Homo sapiens: one gene and its partner. The protein of the gene in region 1 interacts with the protein of each later gene in a pairwise test. Each region holds a gene or a part of one and is shown on either strand. Other genes may lie near its edges.

Region 1 (3,652 bases):
CCCCATTATATGGGGATTAAGCACACGGCTTGGCACAGAATAGACACTCACCAAATATTTTTTGACAGATAACCCAATGATTGGTATGGAAATAAATAGCACATATTCATAAAGAGTTTTAGGAATGTAAGGCATTATCTAGCAGACGGAATAAACTTGGACCCAGGGGCCAGAAGACCTGCTGTTTTTGCCTATATGGCCTTGGGCAAGTCTCTCAACCTCTCTTCTATAAAATGAGGTGGTTCTTCAAGTTCTAAAAGTCTGATTTCTAAACAAAAACAACCAACATGGTCTTATTAATTTACAACATAATTAATTCAGAGTGGTGACTAAACTGGTCATGGTATAAACTAGTTTGTATTTGTTCATTCACAAAATAATAATAAAAAAGGTTTGTTAAGCAAATAAGATGGTAGAAATGTTAAGCCTATTTAAGATACATATGTTTTCAAGCAATTTAAAAAGCATAGAAGGAGCACATTGGCATATTAACGGGGTGTTAATTACAAAAGAATCTTTTAAAGCAGGTTTTCTAAAATCCCCACTGAGTAACCATTAGCTTGTGGTACTTGAAACACAAACTGTTCACATGTGTTACTTAGAAGTAATAAAATTGTAATTTAAAAGTAATCTGCCAACTTGTCACGAATTTAGACTGATTTTTCTCTCAATTGATCCAAATGAGTGAGGTTTTGCTATAATTATATATAATGCTGGTAATAATGAGGCTGATTATCAATCTTTCCCTGCTTTTCACTACCTCCATCATTACAGATTTTAGGGGAGGGGGGCGGGGGTGGAGGAAGATGGGAGGAGTGGGAGCGAGGGGAGGAGGGGGGTGGAGGAGAGGGAGAGAGGCAGGGATGCCACTCTCTCCCTCCCCCTTCCTTCAAGCACCGGAAGCAACCCCAGCTCCCACCCTGAGCAGCTCATCAGCCCTTCTCTGGGGGCTACATGAATCCAGGTGGAACTGCCCTGTGCGGCTTCGAAAGGCTAGCCAGCTGGTCCGAACTGGGGTTGCGTGAAGCATGCAGCAGCGTCAACCCATCAGCTAATGCATGCTTTCATTCTCACATTCCCACTGAGAGGCTGAGAGGCCTGAGCCTCTGGGGGCAGAAGGAGGGCCTCTTCTACATGCTCTCCACTCTCCAACACATTCCTTGATTTTTCCCCACTGAGGAAGCCAGAAAGGGCTTCCATAGCAGAGAAGGTTTCCTTCCCATCAGAAGAAAGCTTCTCTCTGCTCCCCATTCACTGGAAATTTAATGTCTAACATCTTGTTTTCTACATCGGTTAAAATGTAAAGCTTTGCACCAGTAAAACAGTTATAAAATACCTTCCCATTCCATCTCAGGGTGATTGTGCAGCCTAAATGTTTATAGGAAAGTCCCCTTGAATATGCTGATAATAATTCAAATATAAGAAATGCATATTAGCTAATCCCTGGTGTCTGAGTGGCTGTTATGTGGAAAGAGGAGGGAGAAGAAGATTAGGCTGGGCTGGGAGCCCTGAGGAAGGGAACCCAAACTAGGGGTTGAATTGTGAAGAGATAGAGTCAAGATGTGGAGTGTTCTAGTGAGAAAGGCCAGGGTCAAAATCCTGGGAGAGGCCAAGTATTGAATTGGGAAGGGGCAGGAAGGTCTGTGCTGGGTAACTGCTGTAAGAATTTACAGAGTAGTACAGTATAGTACATGGTAGAGCTGGGATTAAAATCCAGATCTGCTGCTTTTCCTCATATTCAAATGCCACTTTTATCATTTATTAGCCAAGTTCCCTTTGGCAAATTATTAATTTCTCTGTCCCCCAGTTTTTACATCTGTATAATGGGGGTAATAAAACTACCGACCTTAAAGTGGTGTTTTAGTTATGAAACGAGTTGATACAGGTTAAGTATCTCTTATCCAAAATGCTTAGCACCAGAAGTGTTTTGGATTTAGGATTTTTTTTTATTTTGGAATATTTGCATTATACTTACCAATTGAGCATCTATAATCCAGAAATCTGAAATCCAAAATGCTCCAACGAGCATTTCCTTTGAGCATCATTTTGGCATTCAAAAAGTTCTGGATTTTGAAGCATTTCAGATTTTAGATGCTTGGATTAGGGATACTCAACCTGTATTTTCACTTTTTTCTGAGGATCACTGAGCCAGGGCTGAGTCAATCTCATGAGAGCCACCAAAGCCCATGCATTCTAGAAAATTAACTTCATTCCCTGGGCCTCTGTGTCTTCTACTTTTAAAAAGAGGAGAAAACACCAGCTTCCTCTGGGAGCCCCTGGCACACCCGCGATCCAATGCTGGTGGCTAAGTTCTCTGCAGACCTAGAAGCTTCATAATGAGGGGAAGGAAGAGGTGGGGCATTTAGATTCTCTTTGCACAATTTCTTCCCCCAGTTGCTATTCAGCTCTCTATCTCTTGGTGAGATTGTAAATGTTTTAGAAAATAGTTTATACGAAATATGTTCCTTCCTAAATCTCATAAACAGTTACTCCTTTCCACATAAACCTTAACCACTTATGCCCATGATAGGTTCCAATTAGCCACCCACATATCTGTGGAGGGGAAAAATATGTTCTAGCATATACACACATGTGCACACGCACACATACAAGCAGGTCCAACTCAACCCCTTCTCTATGGCTATTTTCAAGTGAAAGCAACTATTCTACATGAATGGTCAGGGTCAGTTGGACAGGACTCTTGCAAATAAGTATGTACCCAAGGGAAGCCACCAATTAATTCTGCAGAGATCACCGTTGCTCTTAACCTATCCCATGGCTTATTCCTCAATGGCCAGTCCACTGGGTCTGCAACAACCAGTCAGTGCTGAGGCTGCATATCTGAGGTTGTATTGGAGCACCGGGAGCTCCCTGGGGGTGTGCTGCTGCCCCTGGCTTTGCAGAGCAACTGTGTCACTCACAGAAGCTGTGAGAGGCAGCTCAGCAGTGTGAACTCTGGGAGCTAGTCTGCCTGGGTTCAATCCCTGGCTGTGCCATTTTCTAGCTATAAGACCTTAAGCAAGTTATTTCACCTCTCAATTCCTCTGTTTCTTTGTCTCTAAAAGGAGTACGAGAACAATGGTAACAGTACCTACTCCTAGGGTTGTTATGAGGATTACATGAGCCGAGGCTGGTAAAGTGCTTACAATAGTAGCGAGCATTAGTGTTACAGTGTGTTTGTTAAATGAAATGAGAGAAGTCCTCTCTCTCCCTGATCTCCTTCTCACCCTGAGGATTACTGCACAATTGGATGGGGGGGATTACAGGCTTTGTTTTGCCATCTTCTAAGAGGCAGCAACTGTCTCATCCCAGAAAAACAAACCTATTACTGAGCAGCTGGCAAACCCTGGACTTGGCAGAGAAGGAGAAGAGAAGGTTTCTCTCATCATTACATGGTAGGGCCCAAAGCTGGGAGATTGGGCACCTTTGTGGAGCCACCACGTAGCCACCACACTTTGGCCAGTTTGAGCAATCTGTTGCTCACTGATCAGATGATGCTCTGACATCTGGTAAGCATGGTCCCAGACACAAATCTCAGGTGTTATTTCCAAAAGGTGACTTTGCTTCCCTGGAGATTCTTATACAAATCATGGGGCCCTCTGTAATTCCATGTGCTAATATGTAACAGGGCAGGGGGTTATACACCAAGTAT
Region 2 (3,652 bases), on another chromosome or scaffold:
TTTCACATGGACACTGCTTTTAAAAGATATTAAATGTATTTTCTTACCTTGAAATGAGCCAGCAAAGTCAAAATCATCTGTACCTTTTCTCTTGCTTTTCTTAGTACTGACTTTGGAGTGGACTTCAAGTTCTGTTACACGAAAAAATTTGCTAATAAGCAATTTAAAAACAATAAGACTGGAAAATATTACTCCAAGATATGCTAAAATCTTTATTCTGATGGTAAGGCACTATACTGCTATTCCATGTGGGTTTTGTAATTCCACTAGCATAGGCTTGAGGACAGACTGAGAAAAAGACTCTAAGAATTGGCACAGTTCTAATATTTTGTGCAAGTACAAAATTTTCTAAATAGCTTCATTAATAAGACCAAATAATATAAAACCCCTTAAAACAAGAAACTTCTGCTGTGGTTCAGAATAAGTAAGAAGAATGTTGGGCAGGCATGTGCATGCTGGAGGTATGTGAAAGGACAGAAAGGTCAGACAACAGTCTAGAGACAATTCTGGGTGTTCCTTGCTAATTTACAAGATAAAATATTCACCTTCATCTATGCTGGGCTATGATGAATACTGATTAACTTTTATAAACTGCTAATTACTATCAAAAAATGGCAGCATTTCAGCTCAACATGTATTGTACAGAGAAGCTAGCTGCTGGTTAAAGTAAAAGTCCAAAGCTCAAAAAGCTGCTTAAAAGAAAACACACATAACACACAATAAAAACCCTTCAGCTCCAAACGAGAAGGGAAAAGGTCCTTTTAAGTTTCTGGCTGACATGAGTATTAATTTGAATACAGGGCTATATTAAAAACCTTTAGCAGAAAAACAAACTTAAGGCTAAGGAAGTGAGGAAGACACAGTTTATGTCTTATTTTAAAAAATGCTTACCTGGAACGCTCTCACTTTCATCATCTAACACATCCATGAATGTTCCTCCATCTTCATCAACTTCAGCAAATTCTTCATCATCCATACTTCCTAAAGAAACTTCATCGTCATCCAGGTTACCAAGTTCATCATCACTACCTTCTGAATCTTCATCTAATGTGTTATCCTTAGCTCCTTTTGTTCTCTTTTTCACGTTTCTGGAAAAAAACACAACTTGTAATACAAGAGGAGGCAGTATTTTCTAAAGTAGTGTTTTGCTGACTACTAGGGCAGTAGGCTATTAAATGACTCAGAAGGAGAAAGCTTTGCAGACTGCTCAGAGTAAATAATAACGTGCTTTATAAATGTCAAAGATGAAAGTACTGTATCCACTTCCCAAACTTACTTGACTACATTTCCCCTTTATCATATAGTTCTGTGGTCTACTGTTCTGAGGGACAACAATTTGGGAAATGCTAGAAAAATAGGAAGGAGAAGATAGAAGTATGTTACCCAGCAAAATCCATATCATCCTTTCCAGAGCTGAAACAGTTATCATCTTCAAATGTGTCTGCCAGACAATACAGAAATGTGAGATACAACAAAGAATGACAAGCTTGACATATATCTTGTATCTGAATCAATTATTCTAAGTCATGATTCTGCTGTTTATGACAAGTGAACACCAAAACAATGTAAATGTTACTGTTGCTAGTGTGCCTTAATAATGTATACAAACCTGTGAAATACTGATCTTAGTTAAATCCCAAAACTAAAGAAGGATCCAGTTAATTTCGGCTCTTTCTACAGTTCTTTTATGGAAAGAGGATAAATATCAAATAAAATGATATTTAGCAATTGTCGTCCTTTTTACTCTATTAGAACTACTTAAGTGCTCATTTTTAATAGGTGTGATACAATATGTAACATCTCATGCTTGTAATTCCAGCACTTTGGGAGGCCGAGGTGGAGTGATCATCAGCCTGGGCAACACGGCAAGACCCTATCTCTATTAAAAAAAAAAAAAAAACAAAAACAACAACAACAAAAAAAAAAACAAAAAAAAAACGAGCCGGACATCATGGCATGTACCTGTAGTCCCAGCTACCCGTGGGGCTGAGGCAGGAAAATCGCCTGAGCCCAGAAGGTCTAGGCTGCAGGGCTGCAGTGAGTTGGGATTGTGCCACTGCACTCCAGCCTGGGAGACAGAGAGAGCCTGTCTCAAAACAAACAAACAAACCCCCCAAAAAACAACAACAAAAAAATATGTAACGTGAAATCAGTGTAAGTCTTTCCAATTTACCATGTTTTTTGTTTAAGTCTATTAAGTTTCAATCAAAATTTCTGTAGCTCTGTGGATTAAAGATAAAAAAGATCAAACAGTAGACTATTGCTATCAATTAGTACTGATATACTATAATAGATTATGAATAGTAAAAAGGATTTCTTTTTCACATGAGATTTGGCTGTAACAATTGAATAGACTTAAGCAAATATAAATGTTTTCTTATATAGACTATCCAAAGCACAAATCATGTATTTTTCTGGTGCAAATGTGGGTGAATTACCATATATCATAAAAATATTTGTTTCTTTTGTTTTTTTTTTGAGACAGGATTTCACTCTGTCACCCAGGCTAGAGTGCAGTGCCGTAATCTTGGCTCACGGCAACCTCTGACTCCTGGATTCAAGCGATTCTCGTGCCTCTGCTTCTCGAGTAGCTGGGACTACAGGTGCGTGCCACCATGCCCAGCTCATTTTTTGGGGTTTTTAGTAGAGACAGGGTTTCACCATATTGGCCAGGCTGGTCTCGAACTCCTGACCTCAAACAATCTTCCTGCCTCGGCCTGCCAAAGTGCTGGGATTACAGGTGTGAGCCACAGCGCCTGGCCCCAAATATTTCTTAATCTTCCACTGTGATTTGCATGATATTCTTAGCTAAGTGATTTTTTAAAACTAAGGCCACTTCTCCCACTAATGTTCCATGGTCTATTAACACATAGTAGTAGATTATTTTACAAAGAGTCAACAAAACAAATTACCAATCAGCTCTTCAAATTCTTCATCATCCACGTCTTCTATACTTTCTTCATCTGCATCCCGTTTTTGTTTCTCTTTAACAGCAACTTTTTTATAATACCTATAATATTCATGTTATATATTTGACAATTTTATTAAAGGTCTAATCTTACTATATATCATCAAAGCACCTATGACCAGTGGCAAACCACAACTGTAAAATCTTAAGTATACTCAATTGGAAATAAATGACTGAAATTTGTATCTAATATACAAAAAATAGTTTAACTCAATAAAAAGTAGCTGGAATCTTTTAAGTGTAATACATTTCAAAGATAATATTTTATCAGCCCTATTCTTATATTAGAATACAGCAAAACTTAGCCATTTACAGATGTAATCAAACCCTCAAAATTATTCATTCTAAATGATTTTAAAAAACAAGCCAAATCAAACCTAATTAACCAGTCAACCAGATGAGATAAGAGGTACTTTACTACCCTAAGGCATTAGGTTATGATACTAGTTGGTTTAGGACTTATTTCTATAACAGTGCACTGAATCCATTCTAAGGGCCATGGTCTGGATAAATTACCCATGAGTTATCACTATATTAAACTTAAAGTATTATATTAAAATCTATATTAAAGGTAGATTTTAAGCCTATAAAGAAAATTATTATAAAAGGAAATTAAAGGCTAAATTCCAAAAAGAAGCATAAAACAAAATTTATATGCTAAATTAACAAAACTCCCAAATTTAC

The links.
Region 2: the proteins of RXRG (region 1) and CEBPZ interact in a two-hybrid assay, tested with the Homo sapiens proteins (one large-scale study listed by BioGRID and IntAct).

The regions. Positions count from the first base shown.
Region 1 is NC_000001.11:165,438,476-165,442,127, forward strand, and holds part of RXRG (retinoic acid receptor RXR-gamma), read right to left. Parts: intron 1-3,652. UniProt on the Homo sapiens protein: Receptor for retinoic acid. Retinoic acid receptors bind as heterodimers to their target response elements in response to their ligands, all-trans or 9-cis retinoic acid, and regulate gene expression in various biological processes.
Region 2 is NC_000002.12:37,210,952-37,214,603, forward strand, and holds part of CEBPZ (CCAAT/enhancer-binding protein zeta), read right to left. Parts: intron 3,011-3,652; coding exon 2,913-3,010; intron 2,604-2,912; exon of another isoform or gene 2,486-2,603; intron 1,729-2,485; exon of another isoform or gene 1,442-1,728; coding exon 1,384-1,441; exon of another isoform or gene 1,305-1,383; intron 1,089-1,304; coding exon 892-1,088; intron 224-891; exon of another isoform or gene 132-223; coding exon 48-131; exon of another isoform or gene 1-47. UniProt on the Homo sapiens protein: Stimulates transcription from the HSP70 promoter.